Linked DNA regions of Homo sapiens. The protein of the gene in region 2 interacts with the protein of the main gene of each other region in a biochemical or structural test. Each region holds a gene or a part of one and is shown on either strand. Other genes may lie near its edges.

Region 1 (7,434 bases), on a different chromosome or scaffold from region 2:
TGCAGTGGCAGCTGCATTACACAGTTAATAAATGAGATCTATTTGCATCTGTCTTATTTCCGTCTGTCTTTTGTTGAATGCTGGCACTTAGTATGTGCCTCTAATCTAAAAGAGCTCTCTGCTCTTGAAGTTATTTCATTGGTCACACATTAAAAAATTACTGAGCACTTACTTTACACCAAGCAGGCATTGTTTTAGGTGCAGGGGAGCGAGAGGTAAACAGTCTCTGTTCTCATGGAGCTCACATCCTAGGTCAGGCAATAAGCAATAATCATTACTTTGATGTCTGTATGGGTAGGTCTGGCAGGATGCAGTCTAATGTGTTTGTTAATACAGTGGTTTAAAGAGTGTGCAGAAAGGGGTGTTCGAGATAGATAAAAGTGGGGCAGAAAGGTGACAACAGTTAAAGCATACTGATAGGTACACATGGGCTTTGTTTAAAGCTATTTTCTCTACGTTGGTACACTTTGAATATTTCTATAACAAAAAAATGCTAGTGGCATACAAATGCATGACTGCCTTGGGAGATTTTTTTCTTTTTGTTTTTTCTTTTTTTTTTTTTTTTTTTGCTCACTCTGTCTTCCGCGCTGGAGTGCAGTGGCGCAATGTCAGCTCACGATAACCTCTGCCTCCCGGGTTCAAGCAATTCCCCTGCCTCAGCCTCCCCAGTAGCTGGGACTACAGGCGCCCGCCACCACACCCGGACAATTTTTGTATTTTTAGTAGAGACGAGGTTTCGCCATGCTGGCCAGGCTGGTCTCAAACTCCTGACCTCAGGTGACCCACCCGCCTCGGCCTTCCAAAGTGCTGGGATTACAGGCATAAGCCACCAAGCCCGGCCAAGGGAGAATTTTTTTTCTTTTGAGACGGAGTCTCACTCTGTCACCCAGGCTGGAGTGCAGTGACATGATCTCGGCTCACTGCAACCTCCGCCTCTCGGGTTCAAGTGATTCTCCTGCCTCAGCTTCCTGAGTAGCTGCGATTACAGGCCCACACCACCGCGCCCGGCTGATTAGTGTGTGTATATATATATATATATACACATATATATATATATACACATATACATATATATATATATACACACACATACATACATACATATAAATACACATACACACATATGTATATGTATATATAGTTTTTTAGTAGAGATGGTGTTTCACCATGTTGGTCAGGCTGGCCTCGAACTCCTAACCTCGTGATCCGCCCGCCTCGGCCTCCCAAAGTGCTGGGATTACAGGCGTGAGCCTCCGTGCCCGGCCTGAGATTTTTTTTTCTTTTGGATGGAATACAATTTCCAATAGTGTCTAGGCCGACACCCCTCCACCCTCCTTTGCCTGTCATTCAAGTCAATACCCTGGAGAAAAGAGGCTGTGGGGGAGGCCATGTTCGATTAGGAGGTTTAAGAGTCCATCAAAGTGTCATATGTGTTAGGTGTGAAATGGCGACACTGGGAATTACTGTTAATAAGGGGTGGCTGCAGCACGGTGATTGTTATGAGAACATCCCCACCGCCCCACTTTTGTTTGAAGACTTTCGTACTGAACTACATGTTGTTTACTTTCAACAACGTATACACTACAGTTGACAAAAGTTAATCTCGGTGATAAGAATATGCCTGTTAATTTATCTCCACTGTGCTGAACGGTTAAAAAATTGTTTTTCTTCAATAACAAAAGGCTTAACATTTTATTTAAAAAAATTAGAATATCATTATTTCATTATTGTAATGGGACGAATCCTCCCTCCTTTCTGCCCTGGTTGGAGAGAAAGGAGTGCAGCCCACTTGCCCTCACTACCTTCAGCCTCCTCAGTAGCTTCTGGCGCCTCCACATTCAGAGGTTTCAGCTTCCCCGCCATTTTCCAACGCGGGGCCTGCGCGCGAGCCTCGCTTGATGACTGGTTAAAAAAGAAACCACGTGAGGGTGAAAGGCTTTTCAGCACGCATGCGTGCAACCCGCGGTTACGCCAGCGGTTAAATCAGGAGTCAGCTCTGGGCAGGCGCAGAACACACTGCGGCCCTGATTGCCAGCACACATGCTACAACCTTGAGGCTGTAACTCCACAAACAAGGGCAGAACTAGGGTAATGGCCAGTTGGGGAGTGAGGGTAGTGTGCACACACACAAAACCCTAGGGAGGTCTCTCCTGCTTTAGGCTGCTTGTCTTGTGCAGGTTGTCAAAGTCTGGGACAGACGTGCATGTGCTATGTGGTGGTACACAATAGTTCGAGTCTGTTTTCGTTTACAAATCCTCATCAAAGAGTTCATGAGAGAGGGTTACTTATCTCTGTTTCACAGATGAGTAAAACGAGGCTTAGAGGCTAAGTGCATCTCCTATGTAAAAATGCTGGATTTCAGCCACTGTGTGCAGTCAGGTGCTGTGTCCTGGGTTCCACAGGTGGACACTGAAGGCCACCTTCTCATTAATGTTAGCAGCAGCCAGCATTGAGGGCGGGTCATTTCTGGCAGGGTAAAGATGAAAAAAGTACAAGAAGGGCAAAGGAATATCCTTGTGGGTCTTACTTTTAGGCCTTTTATGTAGTTTTTTTCTTTAAAATACCCTCAGGCCAGTCCCAAGCATAGCCTGGCCCTGAAGTGCCAATTCCAGCACCCCCGTGGGCCACCCTAGACACCTTGGCCAGATCTGGACACTCAGGGCTGAGATTCAACTAGGAGGCAGACCACGGAAGCAAGTTTGGAGGGGACAGTCCCTGACAGAGGCTAGAGCATCATCCAAGTGGAGGAGATGAGACAGAGGGAAGGGAGAGGGAGGCCTAAGGATTTCCCCAGAGGGGGAGGTGCATGACTGGGCAGGGAAAGCAGCCTGCTCGCCTGGCGGCTGCCACCATCTCTCTCATCGGTGGGCCCTCAGACCTTGCCCCATTGCTTAGGGAGACAATGACTGGCCACAGACACACCCCCACACACATTTCCAGGGTAGACAGAAGGTAAAAAACAAAGGTGGTTGCTCCCAGCACTGCCTGGTCTGGGAGCTCCAACTATCAGAGTCCAGTGAACAAGCCATTATGGGCAGCTTGGTCCGTAGAGGTGGCTGGTGGTGTGGAGTACTTGGGTGGGTAACGAATGAAGAGCCGGTCCTCCTCTTTCTTCACCCAGCGCAGGAGTTTGGTCACTACCAAGATTGCACCTGCCTTGGTCACCAGAGGGCTGAGGCAGGTATAGAGCTCGAATTTGGAGGTCACCTGGGGGTTTCGGAGGAGACAGAGTCAGATGGGCCAGAGCTGGCTATGGACAATCCTGCCTACCCCAGTGCAGCTGCATGTCTGCCTCCTGCAACCTGGAACATGTACCTGGCAGCACCTCCTACCAGGTGCTGCCTAGATACTGGGCTAAGGTAGGTAAGCTGATATTGTGCAATTTCAGCTGGACCTAGTGACTTCAACTGGATGATGCTGGTTGTGTGTGTGGGTACTCTCTAGACCTGTTTGCTCATTGGGAACTGGGGAAAACAGTAACAATGTTTAATATTCTGTCAGTAACCTATTGTGTACAAGGTCCTGCTCTAAGCTCCTACAACTATGTTTTCATCATCTACAGCCAGGGAATAATATAAAGAGGAACTCAATTTATGCCTCATACCACATGGAGAGGCCTGACCCCACAAGGTCACTAGCGCCTTTCCTGTGCCACCTCCCAGAGCGCTCCCCTTCACTCCCTCTGCTCCGGCCACTCTACCCTTTCCTTGCTATTCCTCAAACATAGCCAGGCTTGGTTCCACCTCATAGCATATCAGTCCTTTCCCTCTGCCAGGTGTACTCTTCCTCCTAATATCCACGTAGCTCAATACCTCCCTACTCCACTCAGATGCCATCTGCTCAGGGAGGCCACCCTGATCACTTGGTTTAAAATTCTGCTCCTAACATATATTTTGTTTGTTTTTGTTTTTTTGTTTTTGACGTAGAGTCTTACTCTGTTACCCAGGCTGGAGTGCAGTGGCACGGTCTCGGCTCACTGCAACCTCCGCCTGCCAGGTTCAAGCGATTCTCCTGCCTCAGCCTCCCGAGTAGCTGGGATACAAGCGCATGCCACCACATCCAGCTAATTTTTTGTATTTTTAGTAGAGATGGGGTTCCACCCTGTTGGCCAGGCTGGTCTCGAACTCCTGACCTTGTGACTCGCCGCCCACTCCCCCCAACTCCCACCCCGACTCAGCCTCCCAAAGTGCTGGGATTATAGGCGTGAGGCACCGTGTCTGGCCCATATCTTGGTTTTAAAATTCCAATCTCTACTAAAAGGTATAAGGGCTCCATGGAAAAATGGCTGAGTTGAGGACTGGAATAGAGAAAGTCAAGTAAGATGTGCTCACATAGTGAAGGGGACGTGTCAGAGACACAGGGATCAGCCTGGCTAAATCAGGGTACCCACCGGCTAAATCAGAGGCAATCTGAACACCAAAATAAATGCTAGAGAAGGATTTTAGCTCACTGAATTAAAGAAAAATCCATGAGACAATATTGATAGAAAATTAAAAATTCAATAAATAGGAGAAGGAAAAGTTATTCCTTTTTGTTTTTGAAATGGAGTCTTACTCTGTCGCCCAGGCTGGAGTGCAGTGGCGCGATCTTGGCTCACGGCAACCTCCACCTCCCAGGTTCAAGCGATTCTCCTGCCTCAGCCTTATGAATAGCTGGGACTACAGGTGCGCACCACCACGCCCAGCTAATTTTTGTATTTTTAGTAGAGACGGGGTTTTGCCATGTTTGCCAGGCTGGTCTCGAACTCCTGACCTCAAGTGATCAGCCTGCCTCAGCCTCCCAAAGTGCTGGGATTACAGGCGTGAGCCATCACGTCCGGCCCCATGTTACTCTTTATAGTAAAATCCCAGCCAATAAATGTAGAAAGAATGATGGAGTTAGGAAAACCACCATCTGACCAGGCGTGGTTTTCACCACGCCCTTTATAACTCTTTATAAATATAAATATAAAAACTCTTTATATTGTTTTTGCAGCTTCTAAGTCTAAAGTTATTTGAAAATGAAAGTTAAAAAAATTTAAAAACAAAATTCTTAGCCTAGGACAATACCTGATCCACAGCAGTCACGCAATAAATTAATAAATATGCATTACATGGCAGGTGCCATTTCTGATGAGGCCTCCTTCACTGGCCTCCCTTAGTAGCTGACCTTTAGCAAACCCATAGGAAGTGAGGGCTGGAGCCCAGAGGAGACCAAAGGGAAGGATACCCCAGGTGGAGGGCACAGCAAGGGACCACGCCTGTAGTCTGAGGAGTGCTGGGGACTCATGGAGTCACAATGAGCTGGTGATGAATGGGGTGCCTCCAAACACATGGATTGGGCTACTGGGGAATCGGCAGGCACAGCAGTGGTAGTTAATGGGGCCTCTGGAAAGTCAAAGACACTGTCCTGGTTGCTAATCTGGGAGAAGCACACAGGAGGGTGAGGCTAATGTCGGATTAGAGACACGGTCATTAGTTGTCAGGGGCTTCAAAGATGTGTGTGTAAAGGCAGGGACAGTGTTGCAGGCAAGGCACAGCCCAGCCAGAGGCCTGCTGTGTTTGGTGGAGGCACTGTGGCTGGAGGGGATACAATATAGGGAAAGGAGGCTTGAAGTGGGGAATTAATTCACTCAGAGCCCTGCCCAACTTACCCAGGCCAGTAGTGTCTCCTTCTCAGCCACGTGGTAAATGAGGCGCAGGGGTCGGGAGGTGCTGTGGAGACGAGCATGCAGGCGGTGGTACAGGTCCGACAGCCGCTGCCGCTCCTCCTCTCTGCTGTAGGGGGCCTCTAGCTCAGGGCTGCCATGATGGAGGGAGGTGGAGGACAAGGTTAGTCCAGGGCCTTCTTGGCTGGCCCATTTCCTCCCTCAGTCTAGAGATTTCAATGAAGTTAGGGAGCTGAGCCTCTCCCATGAGACTTGAGGATTCTCAGGGGTTGGAGGCTGACCTTCCCTCATCAAACTAGGAGATTCCCTGAGTACTAGGGCCCTGCTGTCCACCAGAAGAGGGGGATTCCTTTAGGTCTGTGGCTGATGCTCCATCATCAGACAGAGACTTGTTCTCTTCCCTCTTTCTTAAGCATGGCTGGTTATCTCTCCTGAGTCACATCCCTGAGATGCTGAACTTCCTGGTTTGACAGGCCTTCCCACCCAGCCAGTTGCCTTAGGGTCAGGGCCTACCTGGTAAACTGGGGCAGTTGGCGGTGGTGGTCAGGGATGTCCAGCGGCTTATACAGGAAGTGCCGGAGGCCCGGCGCCCCGACAGCCTGCACGCTGTAGGCAGGAGCACTGGCTGATGAGGCATTAGAGAAGCTGGCAGCCTCCCCAAGGGCACGCATGGCACCAAGGGCATGCATCCCATCTTCAACCAGGCGCCGGCAGGCGGCCATGGCATGGAAGGCTTCACGTTGGGTGCCAAGCAGCAGCAGGCAGACAGGCATAGCATCCAGGCGGGCCACGTAGGCGTAGAAAAAACCATCAGGGTTGAAGCGGGGCAGGCACACAGGTGCCCAAGCCTCACCCGCCGCAAAGGCTGGTGCACCCACCCAGTCGAGCAGCAACTGCAGGTCAGCTGGGTCCAGCCGGCACTCGGCCAGCACATTTCGCTCCTGGGCTGCTGTTATAAGTCGACCGCCTACTGCCAGCACTGACAGCGCCAGGCCAGGCGCTGTGCAACGTCGGAGGAGCGCACCTAGTGCGTCTCGCAGCGGGCGGGCAAGGGGCACACAGCGCACGGCACCCAGGAGCAGGGCTCCTGGGTCCTGCTCCATACTGTCCAGAAGTCGGTCCAGTGTGCGCTCTGAACCAGCCAGCAGGCGGCGGAGGTCATAGTTCTGCTTGTGTGCGAAGATGCGGGCGACACTTGCACGTGTAAGTGTGCTCACGATCTGTGCGTGCACAGCTAGCAGCTCCCCCCGCAGCTGGGCTGCTGACTGAGAAGTCCGTGACATGGCCACGAGCAACAGTGGGCCCTGTTGTAGGAACACCAGCTTGTGGTCCTCTAGGGAAGGAAGGGGTAAGAAGGGGGGGTACAGCTGGATCAGGAATGACCAGAGGGAGACAGTGGGGCTCTTCTGCCCTCTCCTACCATACACACACCAGGCCCGAGTCCACATGCTCACTCTGTGGGCACCTGGACTGGGGTAAGGACAAGCTGGAGGAATCTGGACATTTGCAGAGACATGATGGGATGGACAAAGGAACAAGTAGGTTAGATACACAGCAAAGACCACGGGCAGGCGGGTAGAGATGGTACAAGGGCTGACACAGAGCCAGAAAGACACAGCTCAACCACACAGCCCCCACAGTTATCCTCTCAGGTGACACAGAAGTATCCAGCTAGTCACTGAGATCCCAGCAAGTCAATCACTAAGAAACCAGCAGGCCAGACAGAGATGAACCCCCCCACCTCCCGCCACTGACAGAGCTCTGGCTGACCATCCACACACATGGAC
Region 2 (7,434 bases):
GGCTAAGTTTCTGTAGTGATCTTTGAAAGTTTTGTAATCCTGTGACCCAAACCAGTGCCCAAAGCTGAACATCCTGCTCCAGAGAGAAATGTAGAGAAACCTAACTAGGCAGGTGTTGGCCTAAAGGCAATTCAGCTTTGTACCCAATGCCTTAGATCCAGTTAGCCTTAAGAATGTCTGCAGCCCCTAAAGCATCTAAGATGGACGTTTAATCTAGCCCCTGCTCCCTTTTATTTTTCTGGGGAAAACAGAGGTCCAAGGATGTGCAATGACTTCTTCAGGATCATCTACAACTTTCCTTAAGGGTTAGACTCACACCAGGGACTCATGAGGCTTAGCCTGGTGAGATTTCCACTGCACCATGACACCTCTTTAGAAGCAAGTTAAACATGCTTGCTATTTTCTTTTCCCAAGAGGTGTTACCCATAATGAAAAAAACTAAGACCCCACTCTAATTAGCAGATTTTTTAGAGATTACTTGTGGCTGTAAAAGGTAATGTAGTCACTGATTTAAAAAAGGCATGAGATTTAGTCAGAGGATCTGTGATCTGTGTTCAAACCCAGTTCATCACCTTCCCAGACTGGCAAATCACTTAACTTTTCTGAGAGACAACCTTCTCATCTGTAAAACAAAGATGATATTTCCTACAGAAGTGTTGTGAAGATTAAATGTTTGTCAAATAAAACCGTCAAAAGAAGTCTTTAAGAACAAAGATGCTGAAATTCTCAAGGGAAAAAAGCCTCCAACTACAAAAATGGACATAAACGCTCAACAACTACATGCTAAATTTATAATGTTTTAAAAATAGAAAATGTAAAAACATTAGAAATTTGTAGCATAAACTGGAAACTGGTCAGTTTACATAAAAACTGAAGTATAATTGATACCATATTGTTTTGGAAGTTATATCAAAATAAGTGCTATTTGTCCTTGAAATCAGGCCTAGGAACATTTAAAGCTTATGAAGTGCAATACATGCCACTTGCATCTTACTGACTTCATGAAGCTTTTAAAATTTGTGCAGTGATTACACTAACAAGGTAGCCGGGTATAAAAACATAGAAAGTTAAAGAAATTAAACACTGCTGATGTAGTTGATTATACTACTTCCTTAAACTATGTCATGTCATAGGCATCTAACAAACCTAATGATGCTAACCTTCGGTTGAAGAGAGCTGTTACATTTTAGAAAACGTGAAACTAAAAGCAGAAGAGTTACTCATTTCAAGTTTTTCCCACAACATTCTCTAACCCGCTTTTCCAATTAACAACTGGCTAATGAATGATCTCCCAAAGCAGTGCCCAAGTTTTAAATGCTGTATACTCTATTGTCAATCTCCCTTTAGAGATTCCCAATGCATACCAGCAAGAAAAGGTGCTGAGAAGCCCTGTGAGAACATTTCCCCAACATCTGACCATAGATCCCTACATTACTGAATGGTTCTTGATAGCCCCTGGGGTTACTGTCCCACCCAGCCCCATCACACACACAGTCACTTCCAGATTCCTGGAAATTGATGAACATGCAAAATTTCTCCCAAATTTTCAGATTGAATAGGGTTGCTAATTTTTTACTTTGCTAGGTGAGAGTATGTGAAAAACAACATAGTTTTATAAAATACAAAATAAAAAAAGAATAAAATAAAAACATGCAAGTGAAATCCTTCTGGAAATTGCAAAATGCTCTCTGGATAGATTTATTTTTACAGTGAACCCTAATAGGTTGCCTAGAGAAAGGAAACACATTAAGCGGTCATTAATACATTATGTAAAAAGAGCAGAAAAATATTTTAAACTCTTTATCTGTGAGGGAAAAATAATGCCTGGAATTCTTTGAACCACCTGCCCCCGGAGAGCATTTTCTGACTGCATTCTCCAACAAGATGCCTGAGCTCCAGTGGGGACTCCAGATGCAGCAGCTTCCACAGGCTCTGCTGCCTTCCCTGTTCATCTCTCCCTCACCCTCTGAGAAGCCACCCCTTGGTTGGGGGATTCACAGGCAACCACAGCTTTTTGGACCCACTAGCTAAATAATTCTGAACCTCCTTAACACATTACCGAACTACATACTTACATATCTTAAGGAAAAGCTCTAATTAAGAAAAAATATTTAGTAGCTTCTTTAGTAGATATTTTTATGTTAGGCATTCATTTTGCATCTAATAATAATTTCATTTTTATTACCAGCTGACTCAGAATGATGCAAATTTATTTATTAAAAATGAATGAACACTGAGATCACAGTGGTGCCCATGAGCTTGGTTCTCTGGAAGAATGACCTAGTCATAGGGATGCACTATGTGGTCTTGCAGTCATTGCGGAGGCTGGCGAAAAAGAAAGGCACAACTTTTAACCTAGTGCAAGCTTCTTGCACTACAGCTGAAAGGCAGAGGGATAATTATTTACTACTTCCCTTGGGGGAGGGTTGTTCAGAGACACCTAAATGACTTCTCATCAAATGTGGATTTGAAACCTAGAGCATATCCTGGCATGCCTGGGGTTGGTAAGGGTCAATGAAGTAAAGGTCATTATCAAGCTCACTCACACTCAGAGGCTTATAAGTTCTGATACTGAAAACACTTTCACCAAAGCCCAATCTGACCTTCAAAATTAGTGACTTCCCCAGGCAGGGACGTCACCTTTCTGGATTCCTAGGGCGTGGCATGAAAAGCCAGCTCCTCACCTCACCTCTCTTTGCCTATTAACCCATTCCCATATTTTTATTTCCTTCTTGACTTTCTCATTCTCCTTCCAATAACCTTTCTCCTGGGTCATCTGCAAACCTCCAAATCCCACTGGAAATATATGCCTATATATCGTTAAGCTTTTTGCGGAACAGGTAATCTACTTCTTTGGCTTAACGAATACCAATTTCTCTCCCATGAACCCAATTTCCCACAAAGCTCTCCGGAGTGAAGGCTGCATGATCTCTCACACCCCCACCCCCATCTTTAGACTTCTTCACTTTTAAAGTCGTGTTGTCCAGTTAATACTACTGTCCCCTGTGGAGAAGCTGGAGCCTGGCTTAGAGCACCTTGTTTCTTCCTCCTGGCCTTCATGTCCATTAGGATGACTCAGAAAGGCTGTGGCCTCAGTTTCTCTACTAATTCTACACAAATGACCTTTACCATCATCCCACTTTTTGAACACGTATACACCATGACTCCGCTTCAGAAACATTAATGACATCACACTCTCTGGCACAACCTCTTGTCCCTGCAGCTCTGCCATCCCTTTCATCTCTTACATCTGTTTTTGATGCCACCAATGTTCCTGCAATATCTTCTCCTTTCCACCCTGCCTCTTACCTAAGGCTGTCACCCTGAGTGCAGGCAGACCTCTACTTTGCAACCTGCATGGTGAATCCTGGCCCAATGGATCTCACATCATAATGCTCCTCAGCTAATAGCCTTTTCTTTTGGCTTTACCTGCAAAAATTGTTTCTAGGAAAGTAATTTCATCCATTATTAATAAAACCTCATTTTCAAGTAAATTAGAGGAAGAACAACAGTCCGAATTTTTAAGGAAATGTTTTAATTCAAGTTCTATAGAAGTTACCAGCATCCTGAAAAATAGTAATTGCTAGAGTCTTTTTAAGGAAAAGATTAAGATGCTTTGTAATTAGTATAATAATTTATATGAAAATAATGAGTTCCACTGTTCTTATGACAAATTCTGATTTAACAAGGATAATAAAGTTGCACTATTCTAGAAAACAGACAAAAGGTTAAATAAAATCCTATATTTTAACAGCTTTCAGGCAACAGACTACTGAATGGCTTCAAGAAAAATTATTACCTTACTGAAAAACATTTTTGTTAATTCCCTCAAACGGATACAATACTTATTCTCCCTAAAAATGTTGGGGTGGCCCGATCTAATGGCCACTATAACTGCTTTCATACTCGCCTCGATTCCATGTTATATTAACCATACAAATGTAAGAATGTCTGCTCAAAAACAAGTGAAAATTGGAGATGGCTAAAGAATCAAATAGCCTTCTTAAGGCCTTTAAGGTATTACTGGACAACGCAATTTTAAAGGTGATGTTTCTAATTACTCTATTTGAACAGTTTTCTAAATATCTGGGCCTAAATAAAATGTAACCATAAAATCGAAAGTTTTTAACTGATACCTAACATAAACCCTAGAAATATTTATCCAGTACTAAGTCAACTAATTCAGATGCTCATTTGTCCAAGAAAGGATACTTACTTGCAAATTGTAGTCTTGCAGAATTTTAACCAAGGAATCTCTCAAATTGGGGATCTCCATTCCTTCCTTAATACGGTGAATCAGTAGAATTGGGTCAACATGTGTGCCAATGTTGTTTAACAAGCCAGTAATAAATGCTACAAAATACCACATAAAACAATGAACATATAAGCAACATTATAATGCAATTTTATTTGCACATAATTTGCATATAATGCAATTTTAGATCAAAAGTAACTCAAAGAAAAAATTATTTCCTTCAAAGTAAGTGTTAAAACCATTTGAATTTCTAAACTCTTAAGAATTAATCTTCTAAACTTCCAAGAACTAACGCTCCTTAAGACATGAAGGAGAAAGTAAATAAGAACTGTTTTAAAACAGTTGAACAAATGATTACTTGCCTTCAAAATACAGTTTTTAGCATCAAATGGGTGTAAATAATATTTATTGACAACTGACTATGGCTCAGGTATCATATACACTTTCCTCAAATACTGTGCAAGGTAGGAATGCTGTGTCCCCATTTTACAGACAAGGGAAATGGGGTGTTTAATTTTTCCAGGGTCACACGGCTAATAAGTAATGTGCCCAAATTCACTCAGGCCAGCCTCAAGTTTATGATATGTTCTGCCACATCACTTTGCCTCTTGAGATCCTTAAACTACTACTTTATCTTGCTAGTTACAAGTGAGATTCTTTATATTGTCAAGAGGATAGTTATTAAAGTCAATTTCAGATTAAGGTAGTTACATGAACACAAAGACTTCCTACCAAACTTAAAAAAAAAAAAAAGGAAAGAGGAAATTTCAAATCACTACTGCTAGTTATTTTCAAAAGAGTTGGGTTTCTGTTAGGTGACTGCTTTTGTTTTTTCCTTTCCAAAATGGGAGACCCAATGCAAACAGTCAAGCTGAGGACCAACAAATACAAACTCTGGGTGTTGTACTGATAAAAATAGTGCAGGAAAGAGGCTAAATACTACAACACAAACATCCAAATATCATCAATGTCCAGAACAGTTACATGTTTCCAAAAAAGACTGGTAAGGTCTATACACTTAAACTATAAACACTCCCATATACAAGCTAAAAACAAAAAAAAACCACACCAACACAACCCAGATGACATTTATTCAATTTGCTTGCAGCAGGTAAAAATATGCCTCATGGGGACACAATTAATAAACTGTGTAGCCACCTGTTCTTCATCACATGCAGGTAATGCAAAGTGATGAGGCTCCAGGTTTTCCAGCACAGGAGGAGTATTGGAAATCATTACAACACACCTGGCCTATTTTTATTGTAGGTACGCTACCATTTTCTTAACCCAATGTATCTTGAAATAGTTTTTAATCTAGACATAACTGGTTACACTGAGAGAAAAAAAAGTTATAACCAGAGATGGCTTTTATGCTTACGTGGTTTGTCAATGGAATATAAAATCAAATCTTCCCACAGCTCTCCATCATCTTGCTCCTTGGCAAATTCGATTGCTTTATCAACATCATGTAATTCCTCCATAATCATCTTCAGGGCACTTCGGCTATTACCCATTCGGCCTTGGTGGGGTGAAGATGGGAGAAAGAGTTCATTTAAGGTATTTTAATAATTTTTTTAAAGAAATTGCATATCTCTTAATTTGTTTACATAGGTGGAAAGCTAAGACAAGGCTATTTTCTCATGTGACACCAACATTTACTGTCTATAACATAGCAAAATAAGTATCTCCTATTTACTGGATATTTACTCTGTACTGAGTACTCATTTAAGTGCCTCATATAAATGACATCATATAACCATCACTACAACCCTATGAGGCATGTTCTACTAATATTCCTCTTTTATAGAAGAGGAAATAGAAATGTTAGTAGCTTGCTAAGATCATACAGCTACTAAATAGTACACTGTGAATTTGAAGCCAGGTCTGTCATACTCTGACTTACTTTTGATAGACTTATATATATTCTGGAGGTCAATACCTTCACATGCAGATACACTTAAAATGTTTAAAGGCCCTAAAGTCATTCTGCCTCATGAGGTAGCTGTGCATACTGCTTTTCTGATACACTTTGTGCCAACTGCAAACTCAACTATCAGAGGGCTTCCTCATTTTCTTCTCTCCCACGTTCAGGGGAAGGCCTTTCAATAACCCTCATGAGATGAAAGTATTTATCAACCATGCCTTCTATTGGCTAATTGTCTTTACATACTTTGCTCACTGACCTATGGCATTTTAATAGTTTAAAGTTTTCCATGAGTTTTTAATATAGTGCATGTAAGAAAGCCTTACTCAGTGGAGGGACAACAACTGCCTGGTTGTAGGTTGTCACCCTTACCCCTGTCTCTGGGCTTGCAGGAACTAGTAAAGGATCTTGAATCCTTCCCCCTGCACACGGCCATTATCAACTGATAAAAGCTGGCTTGTGAATGAAATGATATCCCATTTGATACCCCTTCCACAGCATTTTGTGTTTCTTACAAATATTATTTCCACAGTTTATGTCTCTAAAAATGGTTAGTTATTTAAAAATGTTTACAGGATTATCAAGTTTTTATAAAATCAGACTATATGTCCCTAATAAGTCCTCTACTGCTTCTAAGACAATATGACAAAAATTTATTCCACCAAAATATTTCTTGGGGAGAACACTGTTTGGAATTAGTGAATTGATGAGCTACCTAAAATTGTGATTAGAACCCCAGGAACATGCTGAAGTAACAAAATGCAGCCCCAAAAGCACTTCTCCTAAGAAGGGCAGGTGCTATAACTGGACAGTTCTGGGTTTGTGGCTGAGCACCCATGAATCTGCATACACATAAAAGGGAATAGAGGATTTGGATTATTTTTCAACAGAGGCAAAGAGGCCAATGAGAGTGAGTGCTGTATAAGGGAAAGGCGTAAAGCGGAAAAACCCTACTGAGGTCAGCAGGGAAGTGACAATGGAGAAACACCAAATATGAATGTTATGTTATATGCTACATTATGCAATCCTCAGTACAACCCACATTGTTGTCATGCACGTGGCTCATTTTGGAAGAATGTGAAAAGATGACAAGTTTTGTTTCTTGGTATGCATGGTACAAAAATTGTGACTCATGTGGAGGTAGGAGCCAGAAGACCAGGAACACTGACACCTAGATTATATTAAAAAGCTCTCCTCCTTCTCCAAAACTATGGTATTCAATTGCATTTCCTCTAGTTATTTAGGGTGTGATTTC
Region 3 (7,434 bases), on a different chromosome or scaffold from region 2:
ATAAAGCAGCTGGCCCAGTGCCCAGCACAGAAGTATTAGATTTGATGATGAGGAAGACATAGCAGATGTACTGACTTGGAATAACATCCACAGTGTAGGAAAAAACCAAGTTGTGGAACAATATATCCAGCATTCAACACAGCAGCCAAGAGCCCCGTGTGTCCCCTTTAAATGCAAATGAATTTAAATAGAAAATTCAGTTGCTTAACCACACTAGCCACACTTTAAGCACCTGGTAGCACTACATGGCTCGCAGCTATGGCACTGGACACACAGATCTAGGACATTTTCATCATCACAGAAAGTTCTATTGGACAGCACTGAATAGCACGAGCCCATTTTTATAATTAAAAAAAAGGGTGTACACTTATAAAAGCAGCAGAAATATTTGGAAGGAAACCATGCCCCTGCTCTGAAAGAACAGGACGGTAGAGCAAGAAGAAAATGAAGCAGGCTGGGACTCCCTGAGCAGCGCAGTGAGTAGCCAGCCTGCCGCCCATCAGTGGGAGGTGGCAGGAGAGGGACGGGTGAGCAGGGCCCACTGCCTATGAGCAGGGCACTGGCCCCAGCCGGGGCTGGGGAGGAGCAGAAGCTGTAGGGCAAGCCTGATCTGTGGCCTCATCCCTAGGGGAAGGATGGGGGCATTTGCGGGGAGGCAGAAGGGTGGGGAGCCTAAATCAGGAACCAGCAGGAGGTGGAGTGAGGCTGGCAGGCTGGGGGTGGCAGCAGAGCAAATCGGCACCTGCGCAGAAGCAGCCTTGGGAGTCAAGGCCTTTCTCCATGGGGATAGCCACCAGGTACTGCAGCAGGAAGCCATTCTCCCGGGTGGCAAATTTCAGCACCTCCTGACAGTTTTCATCCAGGCTCCCGCCCAGGGTCACCGCCTCCTCGGCTGTCTCCAAGTAGGATGCCAGGACTTTGCGGACCAGATCCCTCCACAGGGCGGCTTCCTCGGCGTTTCCGGCCTGCAGCTTCAGGACAGCCTTGGCCGTGATGATTTTGAAGAAGGATGGGCCCCCAAGGCTGGTGTCTGGCAGGATGTCCCGGATGGTCTCCACGCCGTGGCTGTCACTCAGCATCTTCTCATTGTTCCTGATGCGGAAACATTTCAGAGCCTCCAAGGACAGAGAAAATATATAGGGCATCCAGGTCCTGTCCATGTACAAGTACAGCAGGGACTCCTTGATGGCATCTGGCTCTGGAACCTGGGCGGACGACCAGTCAAACTGTGTGCCCTGGAGGGCCGCGGGCTCCGAGAGCAGGTCTGAGGGAGAGAGGCAGCCCTGGGGCGCCTCGGGGGGTTCCTCAGGCTGGTCTGGGTACTGCACGTTCACCCACTCATCCTCCTGCTGAGGCCGGACCTTCTGCAGGGCCTCCCGCACCCGGTCCAGCCAGTCCTCAGCTTCGTCCTGGGAGGAGGCGCGCAGGGCCAGCTTCTTGCCAGAGAAGACCAGCTCAAAGCGCCCATCACTATGGGCTGGCCCCACAGACTCACAGCGAAGCAGCGAGCAGTTCTCCACACAGGTGTGCTCCTCGTTGCTCAGGTAGAGGCGGAACTCCAGCGGGGAGAGCTCGCAGAAGAGCTCCTTCCAGATGCCCATTGCCCCCCGCCGCTCCACGGTGCCCAGCTTCATGAGACCCCGGAATGGGTTGGACAGTCCTGGAGGCAGAGGCAAAAAGGGGCACATTAGTTGGCGGGCCTGTCTCTGTCCTGCCCAAGGCAGCCTCTGCTGCCTGATGCCCTGCAGTGCATGTGGCCAGTGACTGTCCCCAGAACACAGGCCAGCCACGGGGCACTATCACATGGGACCCTGAAAGCTGGATGGGAACATCCCCATTCTCACCGTCCACTGCTGCTCTTGCGTCCTGTATTTCACTGAGAAAATAAGAGCACCCAAAAGATCCCCTCCACACGCCCTGTTCCCTACACCCACGCCTTCCCTCCTGCTGCCAGGGATGAACCAAGTGTGCTTCTTTCTGCGTGAGGCCAAACCCTCCATTTGTGCAGGAGGTCTCTCCCTTGGCCAACTACTCAAGGACAAGGAGCAGTCCTCTCCTCTGTCACTGCTTTCTTCCTTCTCTATGGGGTGACTCCCATCGGCACACATGCACGCTGTCATTTCTCCCATCTTTAGAAACACCTCTCGTCTCCATGCACTTCCCTAATGACCACCATATTTCTCAGGCCCCTTTACAGAAAACCTGTTTGAAGAGGCATCAAAACTGTTCATCTTGGCCGGAAGCGGTGGCTCATGCCTGTAATCCCAGCACTTCGGGAGGCTGAGGTGGGTGGATCACTTGAGGTCAGGAGTTTGAGACCAGCTTGGTGAACACGGTGAAACCCCGTCTCTACTAAAAATACAAAAATTAGCCAGGTGTGGTGAGCACCTGTAATCCCAGCTACTAGGGAGGCTGAGGCAGGAGAATGGCTTGAACCGGGAAGGCAGGGGATTGCAGTGAGCTGAGGTCACTCCACTGCACTTCAGCCTGGGTGACAGAGGAGTGAGACTCCGTCTCAACAAAACAAAAAACCTCTTGGTCTCTAGTTTCCCTGCTCCCATTCCTTCTCGAACCTGCTCCAAGTAGGCTTCTCTCCCCCCATTCTACTGACACTGTTTCTGAGATGGTCAATGCCCTCCTCGTTGCCAAACCCCAAGGCCACTCCTCAGCCCTCGCCCCCACCCTTCTATCTCTCTGGCTCGGTCCTCCCTGTGGCCTCTCACGTTAGAGTGCCCAGATGTCAGTCCTGGGTCCTTGTCTCCTCTCTGTAGATGCCACTTTCTCACCACTCTACCTGCTCTCAGGCTTTAGCTCCCAATTTTTATCGCCAGCCTGGACCTTGTTCTTGAAATCCACATTCATATATCCACCTGTGCCATACATGTCCACTAGGATCTCAGCTGACATGTCCAGGATGAATTCCTGCTGCCAGCCTGCTTCCTCCTGAATGGTCCTCATCTCACCAAATAGCAAAATTCATCCTTCCAGATGCCTGGGCTAAAAATCTTGGTGTTACCCCAGGTTTTCTTTCTTTCGCAGCCTACATCAGCAAATCCCATTGGCTCTGCCTTCCACACATCCGGAATCCCCGCCTCTCCCCAGCTGCACCCCACCCACTGTCATCTCTGGCCTGGCTTGTGATGACAACCTCCTAACTGGTCTTTCTCCCCTTCTCCCCTGTAGTCCCTCAGCGTAGGAGCCATGATGACCCATTTAAAGGGAAGTCAGAGCATGTCCCTCTGCCCCAAAACTCCACAGTGGCGGCCATCTCCCTTAGCTGAAGCCAAAGTGCTTCCAGTGGCCCACAGGCCTCGTCAGATTGACCTCATCGCTCACTGCCACGCCCCCATCTCCTCTCTCCTGCCACTCTGGTCTCCACTGTCCCTGGATGTGTCAAGCGCAGCCCCAGCGCAGGGTCTTTGCATTTGTTCTCCTTGCTTGAAACACGTACATTGCCTCATGACTCCTTCCCTCTCTCCCCTTGCATCTCCTCAAACATCCCCTTATTGGTGAGGGCTTTTCTGGCCATCCTATATGCAGTGGTCCACTCTCTACCTCTGTAGACAGGTAGAGATTTACTGTCCTCCATAGCACTTATGACCACCTGACCACACACTATGCTTACTTGTTAATTTTATTTCCCGTCTCCTCTACTAGAATCTAAATCCCATGAAGACAGGGACACTGCTTTGCTGCCTGCTATGTCTCCAGCACTTAGAACAGTGCCTGGCACATCACAGAGCCTCAATAATATTTGCTGAATGAATGAGCAGGTGAGTGCCTATGTATCACATGTTGCCCACAGCTCCCTGCTGCCTGGGGTGTGACAACAACCAGGGTGTCCAAAGGACACACAATTCTCTCTCCGCCAGCCTGGAATAGCCTTGGAGATTTCACACTATTCTATGGGGGTTCCCTGCCCCTCAAGAAACCTGATGGCCTAGACCTGAAGCACAGCTTCGCTGGCAGGTTAGAGACCACAGCCATCACACGGGCCAACAGACAAACCTAACAGAAGCCAGCCCGGAGACCGGGCTCTACCCACACAACCCATGCCAGGGCTACCCACAGCAAGGCCCCCTGAGCTGGGCAGGATTCTCTGCTGGGTCACTGCAGACAGAAAATGAGGAGAGAAAGAGACCAATTCTAGAGCGTACTTTTTTTGTTTGTTTTGAAGAGGAAACCCATCATGAAGGTTACTGAAAAATTTGGTTATGGTTATTTAAGGCTTTCTGGAATTTCAGTGTGTGGAGATCAAGCTGACCTTGCTGTAAAAAGCACTGGGGAGGTCGGGCATAGTGGCTCACACCTGTAATCCCAGCACTTTTGGAGGCCAAGGTGGGTGGATCACATGAGGCCAAGAGTTCAGACCAGTGTGGCCAACATGGCAAAATCCTATGTCCACTGGAAATACAAGAATCACCTGGGTGTGGCAGTGCATGTCTGTAATCCCAGCTCCTGGAGAGACTGAGGCACTTGAGCTGGGAGGCAAAGGCTGCAGTGAGCTGAGATTATACCACTGTACTCCAGCCTGGGTGACAGAGCAAGACTCTGCCTCAGAAAAAAAAAAAAAAAAAAAAAGAAGCACTGGAGGACATTAAACAAATAGCAGATCCTCCAGCCTGGCCAACATAGCAAAACACCATCTTTATTAAAAATGCAAAAATTGGCCAGGCGCAGTGGCTCATGCCTGTAATCCCAGCACTTTAGGAGGCCGAGGCGGGGTGGATCACCGGAGGTCGGGAGTTGGAGACCAGCCTAACCAATTTCGAGAAACCCCGTCTCTACTAATACAAAATGAGCCAGGCATGGTGGCTCATGCCTGTAATCCCAACTACTCGGGTGGCTAAAGCAGAAGAATTGCTTGAACACGGGAGGCGGAGGTTGTGGTGAGCTGAGATCACATGATTGCACTCCAGCCTGGGCAACAAAAGGGAAACTCCACCTCAAAAAAAAAAAAAAATTAGCCAGGTGTGGTGGCAGGTACCTGTAATCCCAGCTATTTGGGAGGCTGAGACAGGAGAATTGCTTGAACCCAGGAGGCTGAGGTTGCAGTGAGCAGAGATCATGCCACTGCACTCCAGCCTGGGCAACAAAGGGAGACTCCATCTCAAAACAAACAAACAAACAAAACAAATAGCAGATTTGATCAAGCCACCCAGAGCTGTTACATAAACCAACTACTGAGGGTAAACACGTTTGGAAGGACCATTTAAAACACCTGGGGCTTCATGGGGCCGGATGTGCTCTGAGCTACAGGTGGAATCAAGAGTTTTCTATAATCATAAATTGCATAGTTTTCAGGGAAAATATTTTCCTATTTGACTGGTGAAACAGTATTTTTGTCCTCTGTAGGCAGTTTTGAGACAATATACTACTTTTCCTGAAATGCTTCCCTGAATGAACATGATTATGATGGCATTCTGGAATGAGGTTTTATAACACTTGTGGGAACACACTACCCCTTTAGCAATGGAAAACAGAACTTCACAGCTGCCTTCTGAAAGGCCTGGTCCCTGCAGATGGGACCCACCCGGGACCCTCCTGGTAACCTACCCATCTGTCTCCGGTGTACCACCCGGAAGCTCTTATGCCCCTGGGATGGGGCTGCCTGGGCTTGCCTTCTTCCTGGGGAAGGTACACACGCTTGGTCTAACGCCCCCAGGGAGCAGTTTTTTCTTGGTTCTTGAGAAAAATGCCTGTGGAGACCAGGCCTTGACCCTGGAGTCCCCCTGTAAGAAGCTATTGGGTGGTCTGAAGCACTCTCCAGGGGTTGCTCCCGGGAAGGCCGGTAGAAGTCATCCTCTGAGATCCAGCTCTTGTTTTTCTGTTGGGAAAGAAGACAACAGTTGTTTGTTTTAAAGTTTTTTTGTTTTGAGACGGAGTCTCGCTCTGTTGCCCAGGCTGGAGTGCAATCGCGCAACCTCGGCTCACTGCAACCTCTGACTCCTGGGTTCAAGCGATTCTCCTGCCCCAGTCTCCTGAGTAGCTGGGATTACAGGCGCCCACCACCATGCCCAGCTAATTTTTGTATTTTTAGTAGAGGCGGGGTTTCACCATGTTGGCCAGGCTGGTCTAGAACTCCTGACTTCAGGTGAGCCACCCACCTCGGCCTCCCAAAGTGTTGGGATTACAGGTGTGAGTCACTGTGCCCAGCCTGAAGTTTTTTTTTTTTTTAAGTCTTTATCTAGATATGGCTCTTATATCATAAAATTAACCCACTTAAAGTATGTAATTCGGCCAGCCATGGTGGCTCACACCTGTAATCCCAGCACTTTGGGAGGCTGAGGTGAGAGGATCACCTGAGCCCAGGAGTTTGAGACCAACCTGGGCAACACAGTGAGAACCCATCTCTACAAAAAATAACTAGCTGGGTGTGATGGCACACACCTGTAGTCTCAGCTACTGAGGAGGCTGAAGCGGGAGAATCGCTTGAGCCAGGGAGGTCAAGGCTGCAGTGAGCCGTGATCACGCCACTGCCCTCCAGCCTGGTTGCAGCCTAGGCAACAGAATGAGACCCCATCTCTAAAAAAATAAATAAATAAAGTGTCCAATTCAAACATTTTGGCTTAGTCAGAGTTGGGCAATCGTCACCACCATCTAAGTTTAGCAAATTTTCCTCACCCAAAAAGGAAACCCCGTACCCATTAGCCGTCATCCCCATTTCCCCTGGCCACTCTCAGCTCTAGGCACCTACTTACCTACTTTCAGTCCCTACACACCTGCCTGTTCTGGACATCTCATATAGATGGAACCATACGACACGTGACCTTTTGTGCCTGCTTCTTTCTCTTAGTGGGAGGTTTTCCAGGTGCATCCATGTTATATAAGCATGTTTAAGTGTTCATTCCTTTTTATTGCCAAATAATATTCCATTGTCTCGATCCACCACATTTGGCTTATCCACTCCTCGGCTGATGGACATTTGGGTTGTTTCTACTTTTTGTCAATTATGAATAGTGCTGCTATGATCACTTATACACAAGTTTTTGTGTAGACATGTTTCATTGTCTTGGGTATATACTTAGGAGTAGACTTGCTGGGTCATGTGTAACTCTATGTTTCCCTTCTTGAGGAACTACCAAGCTGTTTTCCAAAGTGGCCGCACCATTTTATATTCCCACCAGCAATGTACGAGGGTTCCAATTTCTCTCCTTGGGAAATCTATCCAAATCCATTGGAATCTACTGAAATCCATTGTCTGTCTTAAAATGGGGCTGTCTTTTTGTTGCTGAGTTGTGTTGTGGGTTGAATTGTGACCCCCCCACAAAAGGACATGTTGAAACCCTACCCCCCAGTACCTCAGAATGTGACCTTTTTTGGAAATAGAGTCTTTGCAGAAGTAATTAGTTAAGATGAGGTCATGTTGGAGTAGAATGGGCTGTTCATCCAGTATGACTGATGTCCTTATAAGAGGAGGAGAAAAGATACACA

What was found.
Region 1: the proteins of VPS41 (region 2) and MON1B form a complex in vitro, tested with the Homo sapiens proteins (one study listed by BioGRID).
Region 3: the proteins of VPS41 (region 2) and PLEKHM1 form a complex in vitro, tested with the Homo sapiens proteins (one study listed by BioGRID).

What each region holds. Positions count from the first base shown.
Region 1 is NC_000016.10:77,193,881-77,201,314, reverse strand, and holds part of MON1B (vacuolar fusion protein MON1 homolog B), read right to left. Parts: intron 6,981-7,434; coding exon 6,161-6,980; intron 5,781-6,160; coding exon 5,633-5,780; intron 3,208-5,632; coding exon 3,007-3,207; 3' UTR 1,864-3,006; coding exon of another isoform or gene 1,803-1,863; 3' UTR 1-1,802. Other genes in the region: SYCE1L (synaptonemal complex central element protein 1-like), read right to left, coding at 1,803-1,863.
Region 2 is NC_000007.14:38,737,769-38,745,202, forward strand, and holds part of VPS41 (vacuolar protein sorting-associated protein 41 homolog), read right to left. Parts: intron 5,775-7,434; coding exon 5,634-5,774; intron 4,354-5,633; coding exon 4,217-4,353; intron 1-4,216. UniProt on the Homo sapiens protein: Plays a role in vesicle-mediated protein trafficking to lysosomal compartments including the endocytic membrane transport and autophagic pathways. Acts as a component of the HOPS endosomal tethering complex.
Region 3 is NC_000017.11:45,452,613-45,460,046, forward strand, and holds part of PLEKHM1 (pleckstrin homology domain-containing family M member 1), read right to left. Parts: intron 5,828-7,434; coding exon 5,557-5,827; intron 2,269-5,556; exon of another isoform or gene 2,219-2,268; coding exon of another isoform or gene 2,203-2,218; intron 1,661-2,202; coding exon 743-1,660; coding exon of another isoform or gene 678-742; exon of another isoform or gene 322-677; intron 1-321. UniProt on the Homo sapiens protein: Acts as a multivalent adapter protein that regulates Rab7-dependent and HOPS complex-dependent fusion events in the endolysosomal system and couples autophagic and the endocytic trafficking pathways.